3 separate regions of the Homo sapiens genome follow, and all the other regions are linked to region 3. The links come from fine-mapping of genetic effects on gene expression. A gene starts in region 3. Each other region holds a variant in brackets. All regions are shown on one strand. Distances are from middle to middle.

What was found.
Region 1: its variant is fine-mapped to the expression of DNMT3A in whole blood (INTERVAL, PIP 0.97).
Region 2: its variant is fine-mapped to the expression of DNMT3A in whole blood (TOPMed, PIP above 0.99).

What each region holds. Positions count from the first base shown.
Region 1 is chr2:25,261,895-25,269,894 of GRCh38, reverse strand. All of the region lies in intron 6 of DNMT3A (DNA methyltransferase 3 alpha), which reads left to right. Among named protein-coding and RNA genes, the nearest start is that of LINC01381, 62 kb to the right of the region's middle. RefSeq lists enhancers at 4,727-5,311, 5,312-5,895. The variant A/T (reference allele first, on the strand shown) is at 3,945.
Region 2 is chr2:25,275,850-25,283,849 of GRCh38, reverse strand. It overlaps DNMT3A (DNA methyltransferase 3 alpha), which reads left to right. Exons shown (of 23, transcript NM_022552.5): 4 at 1,139-1,409. Among named protein-coding and RNA genes, the nearest start is that of MIR1301, 49 kb to the left of the region's middle. RefSeq lists enhancers at 5,207-5,796, 5,797-6,386, 6,977-7,568 and a silencer at 6,289-6,918. The variant G/A (reference allele first, on the strand shown) is at 3,950.
Region 3 is chr2:25,336,394-25,347,052 of GRCh38, reverse strand. DNMT3A (DNA methyltransferase 3 alpha) reads left to right here and starts at 5,128. Exons shown (of 23, transcript NM_022552.5): 1 at 5,128-5,227. RefSeq lists an enhancer at 4,216-4,335 and silencers at 4,456-4,935, 4,996-5,205, 5,496-5,665, 5,766-6,005, 6,286-6,405.

The DNA.
Region 1 (8,000 bases), 76 kb after region 3:
CCCTCCCCCAAGATTTAAGACGACTCAGAATGTCACAAAATGAAAGAAATGGAAAATAAGTGAACGGGGAAAATGAGACATTTCTGCAGTCCCTGAGGCTGAAGTGAGAATTCCTGCTGGAGCTGGGAAGGAAGTTGTTGTCTTCTGTCTGTTCCATCTCCTGTTGCTGTTCCTTCACCTGCTTACTAGTCCTGTAAGGACTAAGCTCTGTTTTAATCATGATCACACCCTGCCATAGAACCTCCAATGGCTCCCCATTGTCTCCCCCATCATGTCAGATACCCTCTGGCTATTTCTCAAGTCTTCAACCCTTCGACCTCCACAATCAGCCCACCCCACTTTCACTACAGTCCTCTAATAGAAGGGTGTCCCCTAGGAAGGGACATTGCCATGCTCCTTCCTTCCTTCCTGTCATCGTTCCTGCTGTGATTTCCCCAGTCCATTCTTCAGGGTTGAGGCCAAGAGCTGCTGCCTCCTCCAGGAAGGTTTCCAAGATTTCTCCAGTCCACAATGACCTCTTCCCTTCCCTGAATCCCTGTAACCCTCACTGGGGTTTGTTTGTTTGTCTGAGACAGTTTCACTCTGTCTCCCAGGCTGGGGTGCAGTGGTGCAGTCTCTTGGCTCACTGCAACCTCCACCTCCCAGGTTCAAGTGATTCTCGTGCCTCGCCTCAGCCTTCCCAGTAGCTGGAATTACAGGCACGCACCACCACACCCAGCTAATTTTTATATTTTAAGTAGAGATGGGGTTTTGCTATGTTGACCTGGCTGGTCTCGAACTCCTGACCCCAAGTGATCCGCCTGCTTTGGCCTCCCAAAGTACTGGAATTACAGGCATGAGCCACTGCACTCAGACTGTCCTTACGGTTAATATTACTTAGCACTCAATCATATTTCATCAGGGTATTTTTCACTGTTTCTTATGTGTTGATCACATCTTCCTCTGTCTGGCCTAATGCAATGGGCAGGGAGAACAGGCCCAGTGAATACCTGCTGGCTGGCTAAGCAGTTGGGAGGTAGGTGAATGTGGGACCACTTCTCTGGGAACATGAGATCTTAGATTTCCACCATGACAAGGGCCCACACACTTGATTTCGAGGTGGTTTTTCCAGGGGTGCTGACAGGTGTACCTGGAGGATGGCATGGGGACTGGTATGGACAGCCTCCATGGGTAAAGGGGGGCCAGAGTCTCCTCCATCCTGTATTCCTGCCATTCTCACCAGGCTTCTGAGCTGAGGAGAACCTTCCTTGGCCTGGCAGAGCTGGCCAGGGCTGTGGGGAGGGCAGGGTAGGGCAGTTCCTCCTCCCAAAGGAAGGCACTCCCTTAGCTCCTCTTCCTTCTAATTCTCAGAGCAAAATGCACTCTGATGGAGGGCTTGAGGGTTAGGAAGGGCCTCTCGCTTCATTAGCCCTCCCTGTAGCTCTGCAAGGCAGATGAGCACAGAGACCCAGGGTCAGTAGCTGGGCGGTCATCTCGCCTGGGAAGCCACTCACTCCAGTTTGTGTCGCGGCTGGTGGTTTTAGGACTCAGTTACAGCACATTGATGGCATGACTCGCTCATTAATCTCTTCACCCCAGCCGGATTCTAAATTCCGTCTAGGCAGCGGGTACCATGTCCTATTGTTCTAGGATCTGGTCTCTTTCCTGCTTCCGACCTGAAGGTAGGGACCCTTGACTCATGCATCCTTATACTTATTAGATGCTTAATAATATTGAATAGTGATAATGAAACATCTGTGACTGGAACATCATAGTCTCTCCTCCCTTCCCTCGCCACACTGAGATACAACCCACTCCCTCCGCCCAGGGCTGCCCAGCAGATAGCAGAGCCTTCATGGACCTTAAGGGTTGGCTGCTGTTTACTGCGACCTTTGGAGGCAAGTTCAAATACTGCCTTAAGAAAGGTCCCACTTACTGGGTGTGGGACCTTAGGCATCACTTACCCTGTACCCCAGCTGAGGTTCCTCCTCTGTGGATGGACTTGGCTGTACTCTGCATCTCCATGACAGCAGCACTCGCCAGCTTGTTTTCTGCCTCTACCCATTTCTGCATTTAAGCTCGTTCAATACAGGCATTCTGGGCACCCCCTGCCCCCAGGGCTGGCATGTGGGAGGTGCAGGGTGAAAGTGTGCTGAATGAATGAACAATTCTTATCTCAGAGTTGTGTGGACAACACACAACATTTAAAGCTCCTAGCACAGAGCTAGCATATAATAGGAACTTTATAATTTTTTAGAAAGTATTTTAAATTACATAAGTATTACACAAATACATTCTTGTGAAAAAGTCCGCCCAAACTTGCCACCCCAAAATTTTATTTTGAGACAGGGTCCTGCTCCATTGGCCAGGCTGGAGTACAATGGCATGATCATGGCTCACTGCAGCCTCAACTTCTTGGCTCAGGTGATCCTCCCACCTAAGCCTCCTGAGTAGCTGGGACCACAGGCATGTGCCACCACACTTGGCTAATTTTTAAATTTTTTGTAGAGATGGGGGTCTCCTTATGTTGACCAGGCTGGCTTTGAACTCCTGGGCTCAAGCAGTCCTTTTGCCTCCACCTCCCAAAGTACTGGGATTACAGGCATGAGCCACCACACCTGGCCTGAAAATTTAATTCCTTCACCAGAAATACTTGATGCTATCAGTTTGGTGTAACGTCATGATTTTTTCCTATCCGTGTGTATGCGTGTAAATATATAATTTTGCTTCAGGGGTTCTTTTTTTCCTGTTCTTTTTACACAAATGGAACCACACTGTAGTTTCATTTTACAGCTTGGTTTTTGACTTCCAATAAGTCTGTGCAATCTAGCCACGTAATTACTATTATATTCCACCATGTGGATTCCCATGGTTTTATTTAGCCATTCTGTTATTGGTGGCCATTTATGTTGTTTATGATATTTTACTGTTTAGCATTGCAGCGGTGAACATCCTTAGTCATACCTCTTTGTGCATCTGTTTCTCTAAGACAGATACCTAGAAAGAAAAAGGCCTAGCTGAAGGGAATGTGCATTTTACATTTTATGACATCTGCCAAACTGCCCTCTAAAAAGGGCACTCCAATTTATGCTTCTGTGAACAGGGTATGAGAAGACCTTTGCCAACATCAATATTTTGCTAGTCAAATGGGTGGGAAAATAGTATCTTGTTATGCTTTTAATTGGCATTTCCCAGATAATAAGGTTGAACATCTTTTCCTATGTTTATTGGCCATTTGTGCTGCTGCTTCTATGAGCTTAGCAAATGTTGCCTCCTCTGACTTTACAACCCTGCAGTCTCAACAGACTGTGCTTCCTGTCTGCCCTGAGGAGAGCAGGCCATGAATGTCCAGAAGGTCCCCCATGCTGTGTCATATTCCATTTAATAAGCAGTCACTCAGCACCTACTAAGTAAAGGGGCCTTGTGCTAGGGGCTATGGGAAGGAGGAGATAATAAGGTGTGATCTCCTGGGCTTTAGTCTAGTTCAGGAGAAATGGAAGTGCAAAGTAGACCAGTAAAGGCTCAAAACAAATTATTAGCCAACTGTATGGGAAGCAGTTTTAGAGCATTTGGACTGGAAGACATTCCTCACTTATTTGCCCTACCTGACCTTTTGCAGCGTGGCCTCAAAAATAACATCACCCTTGAAGGAGATGATGATGTTTGGAGTAGGCACAGCAAGTATACTTTACCCAAGGCTGAACAAGTTCTAGAGGCTCCCATGACAGCCTGTAAGCAGTAGTGACTTCGAGGGCTGGCCTTTACCATAGGCTACTAAAGTTGCCACAGAGGGACTCCCCATTGTCCTTTAAGTAGATGGGTTGGTTGCGCACCAGAGTCTTCACTTCTGGGGCACAGAGAGAACAGCTCTTAGAACAACCCCTACTTTTTAGTGGTGAGAAAAAAAGAGGCAGGGTGGGGTAGGTGACTAGTTGCTGGCCCAGGGCCAACTCCTGGCCACAGCA[A/T]AGCCTGAACCAGGGAAAGGGTGTTGAACTTCACTGAGCACCTACTTTACATCAGGCACTATGCCAGGAGCATTAGCTTTCACCACAATCCTAAAACATATTATCTGCATTTAATGTCTTTTTTTTTTTTTTGAGATGGAGTCTTACTCTGTCACCCAGTCTGAAGTGCAGTGGCATGATCTCAGCTCACTGCAACCTCTGCCTCTTGGGTTCAAGCGATTCTCCTGCCCCAGCCTCCCAAGTAGCTAGGATTACAGGCACCTGCCACCACACCCGGCTAATTTTTTGTATTTTTAGGAGAGATGGGGTTTCACCATGTTGGCCAGGCTGGTCTTGAACTCCTGACCTCAGGTGATCCACCTGCCTCAGCCTCCAAAGTGCTGGGATTACAGGCATGAGCCACCGCGCCCGGCCAGAAGTATTTTTTTAACCTGTATTTTGCTATTAGAAAATTAAGATTTATCTAGGTAAGTAGGTTGCGGCCACATGGGTATCCTGATGGAGTGGCCCAATGGGCAAAACTAGACTCCAAATCTCGTGTTGCTTCTGTTGTGTACCCAAATGACTAACCTACACTCCCAGTTTTCCTGGTTTCCTGGCTTGGAAATTGTCATGAAATTGAAGAATGCATTTAGAAGAGAGGGAGAGAGCTGGCCCGGCTTTCCAGCCTGCCGCATGCTCTTCCCGCCCCCGGCCTGCAGTTGTTGGGGCTGCTCCCCATGCCTCTTTGCCAGGAGGCTCAGGTCCCTTTCAGCCTCCCCGACCACCCCTCCCTGCTCTACTCATGTGGTCCTGAACCCTTGCCCTTGAATTGCTGTTTTTTCATGACCATGTGGATGATGTTGTGAAACTGGATTAAGAAAATGTTGGAATGAGATTTGGGAGGCCTGGTTTCTCGTCTCAGCTTCTGCCCCTCCTTAGCTATGGATGTGAGGAGGTCTTTCTGCTTTCGGCATTTTAGTTTCCTGGTTTATAATGCGACAGAAATAGATGAGATGACCCCAGAGATTCTAAAATTCCATCACGGCAGGTTGGGGGGTGAGACTGGAATCATGATCTGCACTCTCTTTATTACCTAGATTACCTTGTACATAAATTCTAAATTAAATATTTGAGTGAATTCTCAGACCTCGCATATACGTCTCTTCTAAAGGCACATACGTGAAGCATCCTTATAAAAACTCTTTTTGGCCGGGGGTGGTGGCTCACGCCTGTAATCCCAGCACTTTGGGAGGCGAAGGCAGGCGTATCATGAGGTCAGCAGATCGAGACCATCCTGGCTAACATGGTGAAACCCCCTCTCTACTAAAAATACAAAAAATTAGCCGGGCGTGGTGGCAGGCACCTCCCAGCTACTCGGGAGGCTGAGGCAGGAGAATGGCGTGAACCCGGGAGGCGGAGCTTGCAGTGAGCCGAGATCGCACCACTGCACTCCAGCCTGGGCGACAGAGCCAGACTCTGTCTCACAAAAAAAAACAAAACAAAAAACTCTTTTTAAAAAAAAAACCTTTGGCCCAGCACAGTGGCTCACGCCTGTAATCCCAACACTGTGGGAGGCCAAGGCGGGTGGATCTCTTGAGGCCAGGAATTCGAGACCAGTCTGGCTAACATGGTGAAACGCCGTCTCTACTGAAAATACAAAAATTAGCTGGGCGTGGTGGCACATGCCTGTAATCCCAGCTACTTGGAAGGCTGAGGCACAAGAATCGTTTGAGCCAGGGTGGTGGAGGTTGCAGTGAGTCAAGATTGCGCCACTGCACTCCAGCCTGGGCGACAGAGCGAGACCTTGTCTCAAAAAAAAAAAAAAAAAAAAAAAAACCAAAGGGTTGTCCAGCCTTTACTGAGCAGATACTGTGTGCTCAGTCTTTAAGATACCACCTTGTGTGTCTGGGTGTCTACTATGTTCCAACATTTTCTAGACACTAAGGAAGCAAATTTAAAGGCAAGTCAGAATTCTACCCTCCCCTGTGAGAGGTTGGTAGGTAAATGAATGAATTGTGCTGTAGCCAGGGCAGGGTTGTTTTAGAAATACTAAGGGAAGGACTGTGCAAGCAACTCCCTAGCCCTGCCTAAGGGCCTCAGGGAAGGCGGTGCCTAGGGAGAGGCAGTGTACCGCCATTGACCTGAACAGGACTGCTTGGCAGGGACAGTGGGGGAAGGGCATGGAGTGGGGTCCTAAGGGAGGTGGTCAAAGAAATCCTCTAGGAGTTTGGAGTCTAGAGTGCCTCAAAGTTTTTCCCATAGCACTGTCTATGGGGCTGACAAAGCAGAAAATATAATAGCCAATGTTCTCTCTGCTTTAAAAACCAGACTGCTTGTCAGGGAGGCCGTGGGATGTTCACATATGGGGTGGTCTGCCAGAGCCCTCTGCCGCTTTATTAAGAGGCCAGTACACTCGTTAAAGGAGTTAATGGACCTCAGTACTTACTACTGATTGCTTAGTAATTCAGTACTTGGTAAATAAACATGATACTATGCTAGTGGCGGGGTAGGGGGAGACCAATTGGATATAGTCCCTGTCCCAGAGGCACACATTGTCAAGTGGAGGAGGCAGGAATGTTTCCAACAAGCCTCAGTGGCAGTCAGAGCGTGGGGCTTGCTCTGTGCTCCTGTGTAAAGAGCCCAACATGAAGCATAAAGGAGCATGAGAGCAGCTTCTGGAGGACTCCAGGAAAGCTTCCTGGAGGAGGCAGGCATCCTTTGAGAATTTCAGTAAGTGCAAAAGAGGCTGGGTGCAGTGTAATCCCAGCACTTTGGGAGACCAAAGTGGGAGGATTGCTTGAGCCCAGGAGTTCAAGAGCAGCCTGGGCAACATGGCCAGACCCACTCTCTACAAAAAAAATATTTAATTAGCTGGGCATGGTGTTGTGCACCAATGGTCCCAGCTACTCAGGAGGCTGAGGTCGAGGCTGCAGTGAGCCATGATCATGCCACTGGACTCCAGCCTGGGTGACAGAGTGAGATACTATCTCAATAAATTATAAACAAACAAATAAAAAAGTGTTAAAGAGGAGGAAGGCATTTCAGGAAAAGGAACTACTGAGGGCAAAGAGAAGGAGGCATGACTTCTGGGTTGTTTAGGGAGTAGTAAGAGATCTGGTAACTAGGGTGCAGGGGTTAGGGAGGATGGGCAAGAAGAGACAGAACTAGAAAGCAAGATGGTCACATCCTCAGTGGTCTTCCTGCCATAGTGAGAAATTTAGGCTTCGTTGTCCAGTGGAGAGCAGGGGTGGAAGAGAATTGGACACATAGTTTAGGAAGATAACCTGGCAGGACAATAAGTATTCCCCAGAGAGAGGAAGTTTAGAAGCAGGACCAGGTAGGAGAACATTACATTTGGCCTTGACTGAGGGTTGAGGTAATGAGAGGCAAACTTGAAGGAATTGCTAGAACTGGTCCTGGTTGGAGGGGAGGGAAAAATTTGTCTGGTATTGGGAGCTGGGCTGGGGATAGGGTTCATTATCTGAGGTAGAGAATCTTGGAGGAAGAGCAGGTTTGAGGCAGGATGATACAGTGAACTTTTCATTTTCTTATGTATTCTGATGAGCAGAAGTTTTTAATAAAGTCCAACTTACCCATTTTTTTCCTTTATTGGTTAGTGTTTGTGTGTGTTATCTCTAAGAATTCTCTGTCTACCGCAAGGTCTTTAAGATATTTTCTCTTAGGAGGGGGTGGATTTTTGAGCTAGGGTTTGGATAAGCTGCTTTTGAGAAGCCAGCAGATTGGTGTCAATGGGGACAGGTTTTTTTTTTTTTTTTTTTTGAGACGGAGTCTTGCTCTCTCGCCAGGCTGGAGTGCAGTGGCACAATCTCAGCTCACTGCAACCCTTGACTCCCTGGTTCAAGTGATTCTCCTGCCTCAGCCTCCCGAGTAGGTGGGGTTACAGGCATGTGCTGCCATGCCCAGCTAATTTTTGTATTTTTAGTAGAGACGGGGTGGGGTTTCACCATGTTGGCCAGGATGGTCTTGATCTCCTGATCTCATGATCTGCCCACCTTGGCCTCCCAAAGTGCTGGGATTACAGGTGTGAGCCACTGCGCCCGACCCCAGGGGACA
Region 2 (8,000 bases), 62 kb after region 3:
GGTAGTAAGTGAGGAGCTTTGTCCACTGCGCAGTGACACACACAGACAGCCAGGATTATTCTTTATTTGATTTTTATTACCTGGAACCTTAGCGAGTTCAGTTCTTAGACTCTAGGGGATAAAGAAATGATTTCCCTTGAAGGGAGAATGAGAGACCCCAGTGCTCAGGAAGAGTTGTTGCAGAGCCTGAAAACTGTTTGCCAGAGCCTTGGCTCTTCTGGGTCTGAGTGCCTGAAAGAATCTGGGGCGGCCCAGGCCAGGGGAGAAGGCTACGCTAGGCTATGAGCCTACAGAATGGTTTTTTGGGGGTCCTCCTTCGACTCTCATGCCTCAAGAGACCAAGAGGAAAGCTGGGAGGGCACTGACCACAGAAGTCAGACCAGCCTGAGTCCCAGACTTGATCTGGTGGCACTGGAATCTTCTAAGGGAGAGGGGGGTCTTATTGGATTATGGGTGGCACAAGGAGCTTTTTTTTTTTTTTTTTTTTTTGAGGCGGAGTCTTGCTCTGTCGCAAGGCTGGAGTGCAATGGCGTGATCTCGGCTCACCGCAAACTCTGCCTCCCAGGTTCAAGCGGTTCTCCTGCCTCAGCCTCCCGAGTACCTGGGATTACGGGCATGCACCACCATCCCCAACTAACTTTGTATTTTTAGTAGAGATGGGGTTTCTCCATGTTGGCCAGGCTGCTCTTAAACTCCCGACCTCAAGTGATTCACCTGCCTCAGCCTCCCAAAGTGCTGGGATTACAGGTGTGAGCCACCACGCCTGGCCGGAGCATTTCTTTTTTAACAGGGGCTGCAGAGAAGGCTTGGACGTCCTATGTAACCTCAGTGAGTGGCGGTGGGATGGGGGAGCCGATCCCTTGAGAAGTGCAACCAGGCTGGCAAACCTGCTTGGATTCTTTTCCTGTTTCTGAAGCTGGAGTCCACAGACTCGTGATTTCAAGGGGTCAAGCCCAGGAATCCTTTGATGTTGAAAGCAAAATTGTGAATGTATCTGTTTGCATGAAGGTTTATATGAACACAGTTTCTGGACAGAAAGTGCATAACATTCTCTAGAATTTCAGAGCGGTCAATGATCCAAAACAGGCTAAGCCCACTGATCTAACCCTCCTCTTGTGTATCTTTCTTACATTTGCAGGTGGAAAGCGGTGACACGCCAAAGGACCCTGCGGTGATCTCCAAGTCCCCATCCATGGCCCAGGACTCAGGCGCCTCAGAGCTATTACCCAATGGGGACTTGGAGAAGCGGAGTGAGCCCCAGCCAGAGGAGGGGAGCCCTGCTGGGGGGCAGAAGGGCGGGGCCCCAGCAGAGGGAGAGGGTGCAGCTGAGACCCTGCCTGAAGCCTCAAGAGCAGTGGAAAATGGCTGCTGCACCCCCAAGGAGGGCCGAGGAGCCCCTGCAGAAGCGGGTGAGTCCTCAGCACCAGGGGCAGCCTCTTCTGGGCCCACCAGCATACCCTGAGAGTCAGGGACTTGGCTCTCCAGCAGGTCCCAGGAAGGATGGTCTGGGTCGTGGCTAAAGGTCTGCTTGCCAAGGCTATGGCCTGGAGGCTACTGGCTGGATGCAGCCTGCGCATATGTTTTATTTGGCCCATAGAGTGTTTTAAACATTTAAAAAATTAGTTGCCAGTATTTAAAAATCAAAAAATTTCACATAAAAATCTGGAGTTTTGGCTTCTCATGAAAAAAAAAAAAGCTAGATCTGGCAACAGCGGGCTTTCATAACGCCAACGATTGCTAGACTGGGATAATGGCGGTCCCTCCATCGCCTTCTGTGGCTGGTTGTGGGCCTTAGTTTTCTGCAGCTCTACCTGGCCTGCTTACTCTCCCACGTGCCATGCAGTTCCTGGGGGTTGCTGTATTTGTAGCCCCTGGCCTGGGCACTCAAGGGCAGCAGATACCCTGTTTGCCTCCCTGAGTGCAGAGGTCCTGAGCCCACCCTAGTTGGGCTGACTCAACTGGAAATTTGGTTGTGACAGTGGCGTGGGGAGAGGGCTGGGTGATTGTATTCTGTGTACTGCCCAGCCCAGGCCTCTTCATCTGGGGACTTTTTGGCCTAACCCTGGAAGCCTGGAAAGTTGCCCACTTTTCTCTTTCAGGTTAAGCCAGCAATTTCAGGGCCAACCGAGCTGTAAACATGTTAGTAATGAGGACAACTAGCATTTGTACAGGGCTTCACAGTTTACAAAGCGCTTTCTCATACATTATCACATTTGATCCTCCCAGGGCCCTGCCAGGTTGTTTTGCATATGTGCATTTTAATTTCAAAAAGTCTTCCTTCCAAGCGTGTATGATGAAATGAGTAAATTGATTAATTGGCGTAACTTATTTTGCATGGATCCAACCTAATGTTCATGCAGGATAGAGAACATTTCCAGAATACAAATTTCCAAACTTATTAAGAAGCTTTTATTCATTTATTATTCGACAAATATGTATGATGCTCCCACTATGTGCAGAACACTACAGAGGGAATCTGTATTAGTTGTTTTATTTACTCCTCTAACAATCTTATTCAAGAGATATGATTATCCTCATTTCAGGAGAAAAATATTGAGGCTTAAAACAATGATGTGACTTGCTCATGGAGCCCCAACCTTAAGTGGCAGATCCAGGGCTCATTCAGTCCTGGTCTTGTGCCTTTCTACTATTTTCCGCTGTCCTGGAATGGGACTTGGTGCGGAGACGGGTCCTGAATTGTCTAGGCCTCTTGCACATATTCTGATACTTCCCGAGAGTGGGAAGGGCCTGAGGGGAGTGAAACAGATGAGGAAAGGGAGAAGACACCATCCTTCCCATTAACAATGCCAGGTGTGTGAGAGAACCCATCAGCCCTGCCCTTCCAAATGTGGTGCTTCCCATGGGCTGACTGCAGTTGACTTCGCTTCCCAGGACCCCACCATGACTCCTGCCGAGCTGCTACCCAGGGTCACGGCATTCCTTCCTGCCCTGAAGCATGGAGCCATAGCCCCAAAGCTGTTCTCTGGCCTTGAGGGTTTGTTTTCACTTTGGGATTTCCCTACTTCCATTTCTAGCTGTTCTCAAGGGCTCCTGCATCGATCAGTCAACAGGTGTTTCTTAAAACACCCATTCAGGGTGTGCTAGGATCCATACCAGGGACTGGGGAAACTATTATGAACAAAAACCTGCTTCTTGCCCTCAAGGACCTCACAGTCAGCTGGAGAGACAGACATTAATGAGAAATCCACCCTTAAAAAGATGAGATTACACATGGAGATAAGCGCTCTAAGGGAAGTGAAACATGTCCAGGGGAACTGCAACGAAGAACCTGAGTTGGCCTGGGCTGTCCAGCGCGAGCTGAAGGGCGAAGGGAGTCCACTGGGTGAGGGGTAGAGGGAGAGAGTGAGAACAGGGAAGAAGGCTCCCAGGTGGGAGGGAGCAGGGCACCCAGGGAACTGATAGATGTCACAAGGCTAGAGTGCAGAGAGCAAAGGAGAAGGGTGTGGAAAGTGCTGGGGCAGACAGGCCAGGCCTTCAAAGGTGGCTGCCGGGGTGGGGGGTGGGGGGGCGGGGAGGCGGGGGGTGGGGAGGCGGGGAGTGGGCAGTGTGTGTGATGTAATCAGCTTTGCAATTTGAAAAGCTCATGTCATCTGGATCCTGGGATGGAATGGAGGAGCTGGGAAGCAGGATGACATCGGAGGGGCTGATGAGCAGGATGGCAGCAGAGATGAAGGGAGGGGACAAATGCCAGGAACATGAGAGGTGAGGGAGAGATGCTGTCAAGGATGATTCCTGGGTCTGGGACTTTCAGACAGGTGGATCTTCCTTAGAATCTTAGTGCTGAGTGTGGTGGGCAAAAACTCTTTAAGTCTCCTTGACCTCCAAAATTTGGCCTTGAGGCTGGGCACAGTGGCTCATGCTGGTAATCCTAGCACTTTGGGAGGCCCAGGCGGGCAGATGACTTGAGGTCAGGAGTTCGAGACCAGCC[G/A]GGCCAACACAGTGAAACCTTGTCTCTACTAAAAATACAAAAAAAAATTAGTCGAGCTTGGTGGTGCATGCCTGTAGTCGCAGCTACTCCGGAGTCTGAGACAGGAGAATCACTTAAACCCGGGAGGTGGAGGTTGCAGTAAGCCAAGATTGTGCCACTGCACTCCAGCCTGGGCAATAGAGTGAGACTCCATCTCAAAAAAATACAAAAAAAAAAAACAAACTTTGGCCTTGGTACACTCCTGTGTGGTCCCAGCTATCCAGGAAGTATAGATTCTGGCAGGGATCAGAGCTGGTAGGATCCCTGAAGGCCACTGCACTGCCTGGAAGCTGAAATTGGTGAGATGTTACCTCGCGGGGTGGGCAGTGGCCTAGGCTCTGCCAATATGCAACGGACAGTGGCTTAATCAGGGTGTGGAGGCTCGGTCACGGTTCCAGCAGTCAGCTGACATAGAACACATGCTCAGCTGGTTGATTCAGATGAGGAAGGAGACTAAGGCCCCGGAGAGGATGTGGCTCGGCCGTGGTCTCCTTTCAGTTCCCCTTATTCCAGGTCTCTTTTCAGGGGATGCTCTCCTGGAACCCCTTTCATTAGCTCCTGTACAGCAAAAACAGACTTTTTAAGGCAGCGTTTCTTGTAGCCTGAGCATGTGCTGAAAGTACAGCCAGGAGAAAGAATCAGGAAGACGGGAGATGATGAGATGAGTGATAGGGACAGGAGCCAACACCCGACAGGCCTGTGCTTGTCTTGGGTCTGTTCCTGCCCCCGCCAGCATTAATGCCATAATGATGATGATTCAGGTGGCAGTGGCGATGTGGCTTTCCCTTATTGAGTATTGACTGTATTGGGCATTCTCTCTCCTCGCTACTCACAGTGGTCCATAGACCAGCAGTGTTGGCAGCACCCAGGAATTTAGAAATGCAGAATTCCAGGCTCCACTGAAGACCTGCTGGATCAGAATCTGCATTTTAAAGAGGGCCTCATGCTTCCCATGTATATGAAAGTTTCAGAAGCTCTGCTGTGTATTATGCCCCATGTGTGATCACGGGAGGAAGATTTTTTTTTTTTTTTGAGACAGCGTCTCATTCACTCTGTCGCTCAGGCTGGAGTGCAGTGGCACAATCTTGGCTTACTGCAACCTCCACCTCCCAGGTTGAAGCGATTCTCCTGCCTCAGCCTCCGGAGTAGCTGGGATTACAGGCGCCAGCCACCATACCTGGTTAATTTTTGTAATTTTAGTAGAGACAGGGTTTCGCCATGTTGGCCAGGCTGGTCGTGGACTCCTGATCTCAAGTGATCTGCCCACCTTGGCCTTCCAAAGTGCTGAGATTACAGGCATGAGCCACTGCACTCAGCCTGGAAGACTCTTATTATCCTCATTTTTCAGATGGGGAGACTGAAGCTTCAGAAAGGTTAAATTACTTACCCAAGATTATGCAACTGGTGAGAGACCGGATTAGGGTCAGCACAAAACCCCTCTCTACTCTGAGCATAGGGCCCCTTTTCAGGCCAGTGACTGCCCTCTGAGGTAAACCTGGCTACAGCCTGGTCATGGAGATTTGAGTTCATTTTAAAGAGAACTTGGGTGGCCTCTGGCTGAGTATAGCTCAGACTCGAAGGCGAGTGTTAGAAGCACCCTGGCCTCCCCTGCCCCCAAGTCCTGAGATGCACTAGGGTCATGTTCGGGCCTGTCAGGGCCACACTGGAAGGTCACAACCACCTGGCCCTGGCGGTGACCCTGGGCCTGGGCCAGGAGCAGTTGGGCTGCATAGGCCGTACTGAGAGAGCAGCTGACCCTCCCTGACTCACGACAAGTGCCGCATTCCGAGGCGGCCCGGCCAGGCTGGAAAGCGTGTGTGTCTGTGTGTGTGTGTGTGTGTGTGTGTGTGTGTGTGTGTGATCACTCAAGTGGGCATGCGCAGAGTCTGTCAGGGAGAAAATTCCAGAAAGAAGCCAGTTGGAAACTGCATAGGGAAAAATCGTTCTGTTTTGGGGAGCTTGGGGGGCTGGGAAATTAGGAAGGGGGTCACATTGAGAAATAACAGTAGTGGTGCAGCGGAGAGGGAGCTTGCCGGGGCATCAGGACCCCTGAAAAGCTCATCTCAGCTCCGGCCTTAAGTCACTCCACCCCCCAGGTCTCAGCTTTCTGCAAAATTTAAGTGCTGAACAAGTACTCAATGATCTCTGCAAAGCCTTTCAACCCTGATTTTCTAATATTCTAATGAATAAATAATTATCCGTAAAAGTAATTAAATGCCATGGAGGGTCCCAAGTAGGAAACGTTTGAGGTTCTAAAGCGGGCTGGGGAGAAAATGCAGTCGGAAGCCCCAAGTCCAGGTCCGAGAGCCAGCCCGGGGGTCCTCCACTCCCCGCCCTAGCCGCAGGGCTGACACAGTGGTTCCCAGCGCCACCGCGAGCCCCGGAGCCCCGCCGCGTCAGGGTCCGCCGGGACCGCCAGGCCGCCCCCAGGCCGCCACCTGATCGCGAGCAGGCGCCCCCTGCTGGGAGCCCGGGGCCTCACCGGGCAGAGCAACGAGGTCTGGGAGGAGGGGGAAGCCCTGGCCTGGGAACGGGGAGGCCCCGGACAGGCTGGAGGGGGCCCCCGCGAAAAAAGTGGGGAGCTGGCTGTGGTGGGAGAGAGGACGGAAAGGAAACAGGGAGGCAGAGCCAGACAAGATGGGTGAGACAGCCCTTAAAAGGCCGGTCACGAACAAAGCGCTGGCGAGTGCGCGCCCGCCCACGCGCACAGGTGCCCGCGACAAGACGCCCCGTCCCCGCCCACGCGGCCCCCGCGGGCTGAGCCCGGCGCCAGGCCCGCACCCACGGTGGCCCTCCTGCCTCCCTCCCCCTGGTGCTCCCGGGCCTAGCTAGCGGGAGTCGCTGTCACCAGGGACAGAACCACGGAGGACAGCGCTGTCCTGGGCGCCCGGGGTCAGCCCAAAACCAGTCCAGGACCCCCCTGTCACGAGGGAAGGGAGTGGCCTCCCGGGCTGAGGACCCGCGGCGTGAACACTGTGGCTGGCTTCCGCTTCACAGCCAGGAGATGAAGTCGGGGCTGTTTTTTCCGTTTCAGGCTCTTTGTCTCCCCCCACCCCAAGCTACCATGAGCCAGCCTTAGTGACCTTCCTGCAGTGGGCCCAGGCCCGATACGCTGTCGGTTCCCGACAAAGAAGCTCAGGGGCCCAGGTGGAAGGAGGGCTCACTTCCCCACCTCCAGCAAGAAGCTATGGGAGGCAGAATCAGCCAGCCCCGCAGCCTCCGGGGCGCTGGGCCTGGAAGGGGTGCCTGGAAAGGGTGGTGAGGACCTGGTGGGGAGTGCAGGGGGATGCCTGGGAGGAGCGCAGCTCCCCTCATGCTGGGGGCTTGGAGAAGCACAGGGAGAGGGCAAGGTCTCAATAGGGAAATTGAGACTTCCCTGCCAGGACCTGGAATCAGGGCCCAGTAGAGGAAATGAATCCTTAGGGAAGGAGAACCACACTAACATGTATTGAGCACCTACAGTATGCCAGGCCCCACAGTAGGCACTTAATGCTCACCATAACCTAATGATTTTAGAACATTTATCTACCTTGATTCAGTGGGAAAACAGGCCAGGAGAGGTTACAGAGGTCACACTGGAATCCAAACTCAAGTCTTCTAGATTAAAGGCTGAGCTCAGGGGCCTGAGCATGGGGCAGGGAGTGGAGGGACGGAGAATGAGATTAGTAATAGAATCATAATATTTGGACCTGCAGGCGGACCTTGGAAATCGCATCCAGCATCCTTATTTTCCAGATGAGGAAACTGAGTCTCGTAGAGAGGAAGTTGCTTCACCGGGGTCTTGTTCCAGTTGGCCCGGTACCCACCGCCCCCCAGTACATGCCCTTATGCCCAGAAGGCCTCTGCAAACACTCCCTTGCAGGGCCAGGGAGGCCGCTCAGGCTGGCCCTCTGGCCCAGGCCTTCCTGCACCCCCTCCTCCTTCCGCACCCCCTCTGCCTTCCTGCTCCTCCTTTGGGGAAGGAGGTCTCTTGACTGGGAGCAGCAGAATGGGGGTATTTTTAGTCCCCTTC
Region 3 (10,659 bases):
TTATTGTGGTAAAATAGACATAACATGAAATTTATCATTTTAACCTTTTTTTTTTTGAGACGGAGTCTCACTCTGTTGCCCAGGCTGGAGTGCAGTGGTGCAATCTCGGCTCACTGCAAGCTCCACCTCCTGGGTTCAAGTGATTCTCCTGCTTCAGCCTCCCCAGTAGCTGGGACTACAGGCGCCTGCCTCCATGCCCAGCTAATTTTTGTATTTTTAGTAGAGATGGGGTTTCACCATGTTGGCCAGGATGGTCTCCATCTCTTGACCTTGTGATCCACCTGCCTTGGCCTCCCAAAGTGCTGGGATTACAGGTGTGAGCCACCGCGCCCGGCCTTTTTTTTTTTTTTTTGAAATGGAGTTTCACTCTTGTTGCCCAGGCTGCCGTGCAGTGGCATGATCTCGGCTCACTAAAATGTTCGCCTCCTGGGTTCAAGCGATTTTCCTGCCTCAGCCTCCTGAGTAGCTAGGATTACAGGGGCCTTCCACCACACCTGGCTAATTTTTGTATTTTTAGTAGAGACGGGGTTTCACCAGGTTGGCCAGGCTGGTCTTGAACTCCTGACCTCAGGTGATCCACCTGACTCAGCCTCCCAAAGTGCTGGAATTAAAGGTGTGAGCCATCACACCCGGACCTTTTAATCTTTTTTTTTGAGACAGAGTCTCGCTCTGTCGCCCAGGCTGGAGTGCAGTGGCATGATCTCGGCTCACTGCAACCTCTGCCTCCCAGGTTCAGGCGATTCTCCTGCCTCAGCCTCCCAAGTAGCTGGGACTACAGGCGCCCGCCACCACGCCCGGCTTTTTTTTTGTATTTTTAGTAGAGACGGGGTTTCACCGTGTTAGCCAGGATGGTCTCGATCTCCTGACCTCGTGATCCATCTGCCTTGGCCTCCCAAAGTGTTAGGATTACAGGAGTGAGCCACTGCGCCCGGCCTAATCATTTTTAAGTGTATAGTTCAGTGTCATAAGTACAACCACCACCGCCATCCATCTCCAGAACTTTTTCATCTTCCCAAACTGAAACTCTATCCCCGTTAAATACCAAGTCCCCATTCCCCCTCCCCGCAGCCCCTGGCACCCACCATTCCACTTCTGTCTCTATGAGTCTGACTACTCCAGGACCCTCATATGAGTGGAATCCTACAGTATTTATGCATTTGTGTCTGCCTCATTTCATTTAGCATAGTATCCTCAAGGTTCATGCATGTTGTTAACAGGTGTCAGGACTCCCTCCTTTTTAAGGCTGGATCATCTTCTATTGTGTGGATAGACTGCATTTTGCTTATTCATTCATCAGCTGATAACATCAGGTTGCCTCCACTTTTGGCTATTGTGAATAATGCTGCTATAAACATTGGTGTACAGATATCTACTCCAATCTCTGCTTTTGGCCGGGCATGGTGGCTCACGCCTGTAATCCCAGCACTTTGGGAGGCTGAGGCAGGTGGATCACCTGAGGTCAGGAGTTCAAGACCAGCCTGGCCACCATGGTGAAACCCCGTCTCTACTAAAAATTAAAAAATTAGCCAGGCATGGTGGTGGGCACCTGTAATCCCAGCTATTTGGGAGGCTGACACAGGAGAATCACTTGAACCCAGGAGGCACAGGTTGCAGTGAGCCGAGATCACGCCACTGCACTCTAGCCTGGACAATAAGAGGGAAACTCCATCTCAAAAGCAAAACAAAAGAAAACAACACAACAAAAAACAAACAAAAAAATTTCTGCTTTCAATTATTTTGACTGTACACCGGAAGTGGAACTGCTGGGTTATATGGTAATTCTATGTTTAATTTTTTTTGAGGTACTACCATACTGTTTTCCATAGAAACTTTGTGGTTTTGAGTCACTGAGATTTGGAGTTGTTTGTTACTGCAGGACAACCTAGCCTGTCCTGATACTGCCACATACCCTAGATAATCTAGGATCAGCCAGGATTCTGATGAGGCCACAGTGCGGCAGACACAAGTGAGGGGTGTAGAAGCCGAGAGGCTAAACCAACCTGAGTTAACCCAGTATGAGGTGCAGTGATGAGGGTTAGCTAGCACAGATATGCCTCCTCTTGGGACCAAAGACATTAAGGTCAGGGTCTGGAACCAACCCTGTAGCCAAACGGTTGTTTCTTAACAGACATAAACCCCCTAACACAGTCACCTTGGACCTCTTGACCCCAGCAACCCATACATCCAAGGTTACATACTTTACCATACTAAGTGACTTTGGTGGCTCCTAATAATGTCATCATAAATAGCCCTATTGAATAGAAATTTACATTTGCTCATCATGGCCCTGAGAATTTCAGCTTTTTTTTTTTTTTTTTTTTTTTGAGACAAAGTCTTGCTGTGTTACCCAGGCTGGAGTGCAGTAGCACGATATCAGCTCACTGCAACTTCCGCCACCCAGGTTCAAGCGATTCTCCTGCCTCAGCCTCCCGAGTAACTGGGTTTACAAGCATGCGCCATGACACCCAGCTAATTTTGTATTTTAAGTAGAGACGGGGTTTCACCATGTTAGCCAGGCTGGTCTTGAACTCCTGACCTCAAGTGATCCTCCCGCCTCGGCCTCCCAAAGTGCTGGGGTTACAGGCGTGAGCCACTGCACCCACTGAATTTCAGCTTCTTAAGAGCAACTATGTTTCAAAAGTGTGGTGTGGGCTGGGCACGATGGCTCATGCCTGTCATCCCAACACCTTGGGAGCCTGAGATAGGAGCATCACCTGAGCCCAGGAGTTCAAGACCAGCCTGATCAACATAGAGAGGCCCCTATCTCTACAAATAATAATAATAAATTAGCCAGGCATGGTGGTGTGCATCTATAGTCCCAGATACTCAGAAGGCTGAGGCAGGAGGATTGGTTGAGCCCAGAATGTCGAGGCTACAGTGAGCCATGATCACTCCACTGCACTCCAGTCTGGGCAACAGAGCGAGACTGTGTCTCAATAAAAGAAAAAAAAAAAAGATGTGATGTGGGGTGATTTCAGAGCCGGATGAACCTGGCTTTGAATCCTGACTCTGCCACTTCCCAACTGTATGGCTTTGACTAAGACTGAGCCTCAGTTTCTTCATCTGTAGCGTGAGGAGAGTACAAGCCATATCACAGGGCTAGTGAAGACTAGAGAAAATACCATGTCTGGTGCCTGGCACATAGTAGACACTCAGTAAACAGTCGCTGCTGTTTGGGGCCGTGTTATATGTAAGCCCTTGATGAAGGCAGAGGTATCTCAGTCATCCTTCTATAAACGGTCTTCTCCTTTGCCAAGCTGGGTGCGCCATTTAGAGTGTTCACGGATGCCCCTCCTGATGTAGAAAGCGAACAGCCCAGGAGGGTCACATGTTAATTCCACCAAGGTTTACTGAGAATCTCCTAGCACCAAGTGCTGGGCTACAGGGATGACAGACGCGGCCCCTGTCCTCACAGAGCACTGGGAGTCTCTGGGCCGGTGGGGACCATGGACAGCAGGGCCTATCATCAGTAGGGCGGGGTGGCCACTTGAGTGAGGGTGACACTGAAAACGGCCAGAACTATGGCCTAGAAGCTGGTCTCAGATATCGAGGCTCAGGGTGGGGGTTGGGGAGACGGAGGGACCTGGAAGCATTGGAGAACCTCCCGAAGGAAAACCTTCCCGTCTGTATGAAAGGTCAGCTCCCGGTCCCAGAGAACTTGGCAACTCGGTTCTGTGACGCTAAAAGGGTGGCGTTGGGGGGGCGGGTGCTGGGCTGCATGGGGAGAAGGGAAAAGTAGGATCCGCTTCACTGTGAAGTGAGTCCCACCACCAACTCCAGCAATCCCTGCCCACAAGTAGGATGGCGGGTCCCTGGGAAGGGAGCACGCCATGTCCTGTGCCAGTCAGGGAGCTCAGGGCACTGTGATATAGCTGAAGTGCTGAGTAGAATTCGGGGTGCAGAGCTGCGGGTGGCTGGTGGGGTGCTGGGGCGCGCAAGGAGGCTGGAGGCGGGGGTGGGGGGGTGCCCAGCCCCAAGTCCTACAGCGGCTGCTGGAGGAGTGAGATGAGCACATAGTGAGTGGCTGTGCTGGTGGAATTAGACAGAGGTGCCCCAAGTCAGGAACCTAGAGCCCTGAGCGCTCCATGGGGAAGGAGAACAGCCCCCACGGTGAAGGGGTGAGGGCGGTGTGTAGGCACACACAGAATCTTCCAGCTGGAAGAGACCTTCAATGTCATTTCATTCAACCTCCCACCTCATGAAATCTTTCAGTCTTCCAGTGCCCAACTGAGGACACCCAACTCTACTTGGACACCTCAAGGTACGGGGAACTCACTCCCTTCAAGGCAGCTCATCTCAGAGAGGCTTTGGAGCCTGCGGGACGGCCAGGAGGAGCCTGGCGCTCCGACCTTGGCCCTGTAGAGCAGAGTGGCCTCTACTCCGCGGCGGCACCTGGCTGGGGGTTGCGGCGCGGTTGGGCCAGCGCTGCTGTCCCCAGCCCCAGTGCTGAGGCAGGCAGAGCGCAGTGGGCTCTGGCGGAGGTCGGGAGAACTGCAGGGCGAAGGCCGCCGGGGGCTCCGCGGGCTGCGGGGGGAGGCACTTGACACCGGCCCGGGGAGAGGAGGGGCCGCTGTCCCTGCGGCCAGTGCTGGATGCGGGGACCCAGCGCAGAAGCAGCGCCAGGTAGCGGGGCGCCCAGCGTGGGGAGGGCTGCGGCGAGGCCCGGAGCTCGGCTACGACTCGAGGGGCTCTGAGTGGCCGGGAGCGCGGCCGAGGCGGGGCGCCCGGGGCCCGGCCCCCGGTCTGGGCGGTGCGGGGTCCAGACCTCCGCCAAGCGGCGTGCGGGGACCCCGGCGGGGCCGCAGAGGCCGGGAAGTCGCGCCGAGGGCGCTAGGACCGGCCGCGCGCCCAGGCCGCTCCCGCCGCGGCGCCCCGGGGCCCCCCAGTCGGCGCTGCCTCCCGGGCCGGCTCCGCAGCGCCGGGGCCGGGGCCAGCGCGGCCGCGGGGGGCGAGCGGCGGGCGGAGGCCTGGGCCCGCGGGCGGCCGGAGGGAGGGAAGGAGGAAGGCGGAGAGAAGGGGTGGGAGGGGGGGACCCGGCGGAGGAGGCGGAGAGAGGGAGCGCGACAGCGAGCGGAGGGAGGGAGCGAGCGAGCGAGGCAGGCAGGCGGGCCGGGAGGGAGGGAGGGCGCGCGGGCGGCGGCGGCGGCGAGAGCAGAGGACGAGCCGGGACGCGGCGCCGCGGCACCAGGGCGCGCAGCCGGGCCGGCCCGACCCCACCGGCCATACGGTAATGAGCGCCGCTGCTGGCGGCCCGGAAGGCCGGCCCGGAGGCGGCGGGGAGCCGGGGAGCCGGGCGGGGGGCGCCGCGGCTGGCAGTGCCCGGCTCGGGGCACGCTCCCGGACCCCTGCAACTCGGCGCCGGGCGCCCGTGGGGCCGGGACTGCAGGCGGGGACGGCGGGCCGGGCTGGCCGGGGCGGCGCGGGGGATTTGAGGGTTTGTTTATGTCCCCGCGGGCTCGGCAGGCGCCCCCTCCCGTCCCGCCCGCTCCCGGCGCGGACCCCCCTCCCCGCCCCCGCCCGGCTCCGGGCTCAAGTTCAAGTCTATACAATGCCGCGGGGGGCCCCTCCACCGCCGGCCTGCGCCGCGGTGCCCGGCTCGCCGCTGCCGCAGGGGCCCCGGCCGGGCCGCCCCCGCCTTCCGGGCTCTGCCCCAGCCCCGCGGCCCCGCCTGGAGCCCGCGGCCAGGGCGCCGGAGGGCGCGGACCCCGACCCAGAAGGATCGGCCCCCGCGGCGGCCCGGGGGAGCGGGGGAGGGGGCGGGGGCCGGGCCCCGCGCAGGCTCCGCGGCGGCGGCAGAAAATGGCAGCCTGGCACGACCCGGCCCCCCGCCCCTCCCCCCGGCGCCCGGCCCTCCTCGGCCCCGCGGGGCGGGGGACCCGGGAGGCCCCCGGGGGCGGGCCGAGGGGTGATGGCGGGGCCGGGCCGGGGAGCGCCGCGCCGCGATCCTCCTCCGGCCACCTGTGGCTGGGGGTGCGGGGCGCCGGCGGGGCCGGGAGGGGCGGCGGGGCCGGGGAGAGCGCCCGCCTTGGGGGCACACCTTCCCCCGGAGTGCCGGCGGCACGGAGAGGGGTGGTCGTGCCCGGCTCCTCCCTGTCCCCACCGCGGGCCGTGGGTGCCCGGGCGGCCGCGGTGGCGGCGCCGCAATGTGGGGGCGGGGCGGGGGCGGGCGAGGATCCCGGGCCCGGGCCCGGGCCGCGGGGGCCGGAAAACGCGGGGGTGGAAGTAGCGGGGCCGGGACCGGGAGCGGCGCAGGGGGGGTACGCCCGGGGTCGCCCCTCCAGCACCCCCGCGCACACTCCCACGCACGCGGACACACTCACGCACACGCACCCCGCCGGGCCGGTGCAGACGTGTCCTTGAAAGCTTCGCATCTGCACAGTGAAGGACGAGGCCTCGCCGCGGCTGCGGAGCGGGGTCTTCGGCCCCACGTCCCCGCACCCCGGGAGACCTCGAGCTTCGGAGCCGCAGGCGGCGGCTGTCCGTGTCCCGCCCTCACCCCAGTTCCCCTCCCCCAGGCCGCCCTGCCTTCCCTCCCCTTCGGCGCGGACCGGGCTGGCGCGGGTCCAGGGCCCGCCCCTGGCCTCCCCCAGCCCCTCATCGCTGGGGCCCGCGGCCCTGGGGCTGCCAAACTGCTTTTCGCTTTCCTGAAGCCTCCCTTCTTGGGGGCACCCTCTCCCACCCCAGCGCCCCTCTGCCATTTCTCCCCCTCTCCTCATCCCCTCCGTCCTGGCACCCTCTCTCCGCTGCACGGCCAGTTGAGGAGGTGTTGGCGCCCTGGGCGGGGAGCAGTGCCCTCTGGTTCCCAGGGGCTGCCTCCCCCGGCTCCTGAGGGGAGCCCCCTGCGGCTGCACCTTGACCCAACATGGCGTCTGGCACCCAGCAGGGCAGCTCTGGCCTGCGGCAGGCGGGAGGGTGGGCAGGGCCGAGCCCCAGGGCCGCGCAGCTACCCCCCCTCCAAACCAGCGGGGACAGAAGCCTTGGGGAGAAGCGCTGTCCGCCCTGTGACCCAACTTGCCCCTCACTGCCGTGCCCAGAGACTGCCATCAGCATCCCTGAGGGCCTGCTCAGTCTTCATGTTTCACCCTAGGCTGCCAGCGGCTGAACCCGCCTCCTGGGCGGGCGGCTACGAAGGGATCCTGGGATCAGGTGCTGCTCCAGTGTCGCCTCCTCCCTCGCGGGCAGATGTGACAGCTGCAGCCAGGGGAGCTATTCGCCTTGCTATTGCCTGGGTGTTAGGACTGGCCTGTGGGATTTGGGGGGCCAGGCATCCCGGGGACCCTCTTTGGTTGGCTAGCAGGGGCCATCTCCAGGTAGTTTTCTGAGCTGCCTGCCTTTGGAGAGTTGGGTTGTAGGGAGTTCCTGCTGGGTTTCTGGGGCAAAATGGTCCCCCTCTGCCTCCAGGTTCTACCGAGGCCCTGCTTGGGCTGTGACAGGTGGCTCTGTCAAGGTGGGAGTCTGTGTGTGCACATGTGCTGGCTCCAGGCGAGGGACCAGGCTGGCCTGTGCAGCAGCTCTGGCACCTGCCTGCCTCCCTGGTGGGTCCCCCTCCTCTGTGCAGCTCCTCCCCAGATAAGCAGCTGCGGATTCAGGCCGACCAAACTTCCCTCGTTACCCCACCCAGGCACCAGTGCCTTCCATAGGAGACTGACCCTAAGAAAGGTGAATTCCTTCTAGACTCAAGGAGTGGACTGGTCCACAGGGCTGCCCTCTGAGTCCTTCCTGGAGAAGCCTAGGAAAGGACGCCAGCAGCCATCTGTCAGGGTGTCTGCGGACAGGATTCCTCTGTGGGGTGGGGGTTGGACTAGAGCCGGAAGGTCCATTCCAGCTTTGACATTCTATGGCTCTGATTCTAGTGGTGGAATTTCAGGCCTAGCAATGGGGACAGGGTGGTCTGTTTTTCGGCACATGGCAGTAATAGGGGAAGGCTTCCAAGGAGAAGGAGATATGAGAGAGATCAGGGCGCCCAGCGAGTTGGGCCTTGGGAAGGAGAGGCAGTGTGAGGAGGGTCCCTGCAAGAGACGGGTTGGTCACGTCCGACTCTGCAGAGGGTGTAAAAAGTACAGCCTCCTTTAAGCCTCGGCACGTGTGTATCCTGTAGGTTTGTGTATAAATCCCTGTGTGTGGATAATTTCTGAGGTTTCCTTTTCAAGTCCAATTCACAGTAAGCTCCTCAGTCCCTTATGGATGTTTTACTATCGCTTTCACACCCACCTCTGCCAGTGGTTCTCAAAAAGCTAGGAAGACAGGACAAACGGTAAAATCCTTGTCCAGGGTCACCGGCAGGAAGAAGTGGAGCCAGGCCTGCACTCGGGGGAAGATGCCCCATGCTATACCTCTTACCTGGGCTGCTGCATGTGTCTGTCCCCGCTCTCAGTTTGTGATCTCCAGGAAACAGGGGCCTTGCCTCCCTGGGTCCCCATTGGACAAGCGGTGAGGCCTCCGAGGGTGTCTGCTGAGCGAGGGGAGCGCACTGCCCTCCAGTCCTCTCCCCGAGGCAGCGAGGCAGGTTAGTGCTGGGCTCCCTTCCCCCTGCTGCTGTGCGCCGCTGCCCAGCGGCCACTGCCTACTTACAGGCCAGCTCCTCAGGGTCACACCTCCCTGAAAGACCCAAGTTCTTTCCCAGCAAGAGCCAGACTCCCCCAAGGCTTCTCTTTTTGGGATCCAGGTAGAAAGAGGACTCTAATGGGTGAGTTAAAACAGACCACCCTCTCCCCATCTTTGGGCCCGAAATGTCAGCATTAGAACCCAAACCTTAGAATTGCAGTCTGAAAGAGGAGTTTAAGCTCTGAGAGCTCTTAGTGCTGGGTACGGGACTGTTTGTGGGAGGTGGTGCCCAGTTCTTCCCAGGGTTGTCCATGCTACCCAGAGCCTGAGGCCTGGAGGGCCATTCACGTGCCAGTCACATGCCTCTCCCAGGGTACTTCCTGCTGCCTCCAACTTGCTGGCCTGGGGTCCTGGACTTGGTGCTCGTATCCTCCCCACCCCGTGCCCCACTGGGAGTTGAGTGTGTCTCTGGCCTCCAGCAGGTAGGGCCAGAGCATCTACCCCAATGCCATTCCCCATGCTGCGGCCCTCGGGGAATAGCTTCTACTTTTGTTTGAATATTAGTATGTGAGCAGAGAGCCCGTCAGAAGCCCACCTGGCCTGAGGCTGGGTTTCTGCAGGGACTTTGCTGTTCCTGAGCAGGGCTTTAATGGTCTACTAAAGGTGCCAGATCCCTTTCCACTTTAATTTTGAGGGCTCATTTTCAATCATTTCTCTCTGACGATTTTTCCCTAAGAACATGACCAAATCTGAGATCCATGAAGTGTCAGCCTGAGATTTATGTCTGTATCCGAGCCTGCCTCCACTTGGCTAAGTGTGTGGGCAAGACGAGGTTCAGTGCACATGTGTCTGTGCATGATGTGTGTGTACGTGGTGTGCCGCCACCTGTGGATGGGTAGGACTTGCTTCCACATGAGCCAGTGTCAAGGCAGCTTGAGGCCCTCGAGTCACAGGGAGCTGCACTCTGACACCTCCCAGCGGCAGGAACTTGGGCAACAACTCGATTCCCTGGGCCTCAGTTTCCTCACCTGTAACATGGGAGTGTGCGTGGATTCTGCTTACAGGTGGTTGTGAGGATGGAGTGAGATCATGTGCGTTACAGCCTTAGAGGAGCGGGAGCCCTCCTGTTAGCTGTGTCTGTTTTCATCATTTGGGTGGCTCACGTGGACTAGCACTGCAGGAAGTGCTCTAAGAAGCCTCGTCCACCTTCCTGTGTCTTTTGCAGAATCTTGGTCAGATGAGGAAAGTGCCGATTCTGATTAAAAATCCTGGGAGGTGGGAGGCTTCTCAGCGACACTTAGCAATCTGTTGAGTTGAACAAATCTCGTGTCAACAGGTTGTTTTGCTTCCACCTGAAATCCCTCCCGCTGTAGTTTCAGCTCGTTATTCTCATCCTGTCTTGAGTGCAGCAGCACTTTCCCACCGTATTCGCTTCCATTTTCCAGAGATGTGCTGAGCATTTCCTGTAAGCCATGCCCTGTGCTGGCTTTGAGGGGACACGGTGTGTTTAGGATGCGCCCAGCTAACGAAGAACTGCAGAGTGGGACTGGGGTCACTGGAGAGGGAGAAATAAAGTGCTCAAAGGAGAGTGAGGTCACAACCAACTAAGGTCATCAGGGAAGGCTTCTTGAAGGAGGTGGCATCTCAGAAGCGCCCCAGAGCACAGAAGTGGGGCTTCAGGGGCAGGACATCATTGTGGGTGGCTGTAGTGCCCGGGAGGTGGACTGGGGCCTGGGTTGTGCTGGAGGCCAGGCTGAGGCCCTGCCTTGGTTTGGGGAGGAGATCCCTGCACTCCGGAACTCCTCTGTGGCCCACGGAGGATCGCTCTGAACTGCCTCAGCGTGGCGGCCAGTGGGGGTAGGGGTGGAGAGAGGACAGCAGGGAGGGAGGGGAAGGGGCCAAATGAGCTCATTTGGTGTCGGATCCTGATTCTTTCTATTCCATAGACCAGAGCTTAAGAGCTCAGACTTGGAGAGCAACAGAACAGGGTTTAAATTACACTGACCCCAGGGGGTTGTGACGATTAAGGGGGAGGCCAGGGTCAGGTCTGGTCTGCGAGCGAGTGATAGCAGTCATGGTTGAGGATGTGGCAGGTGGAGAAGGGTCCCTTTTCTG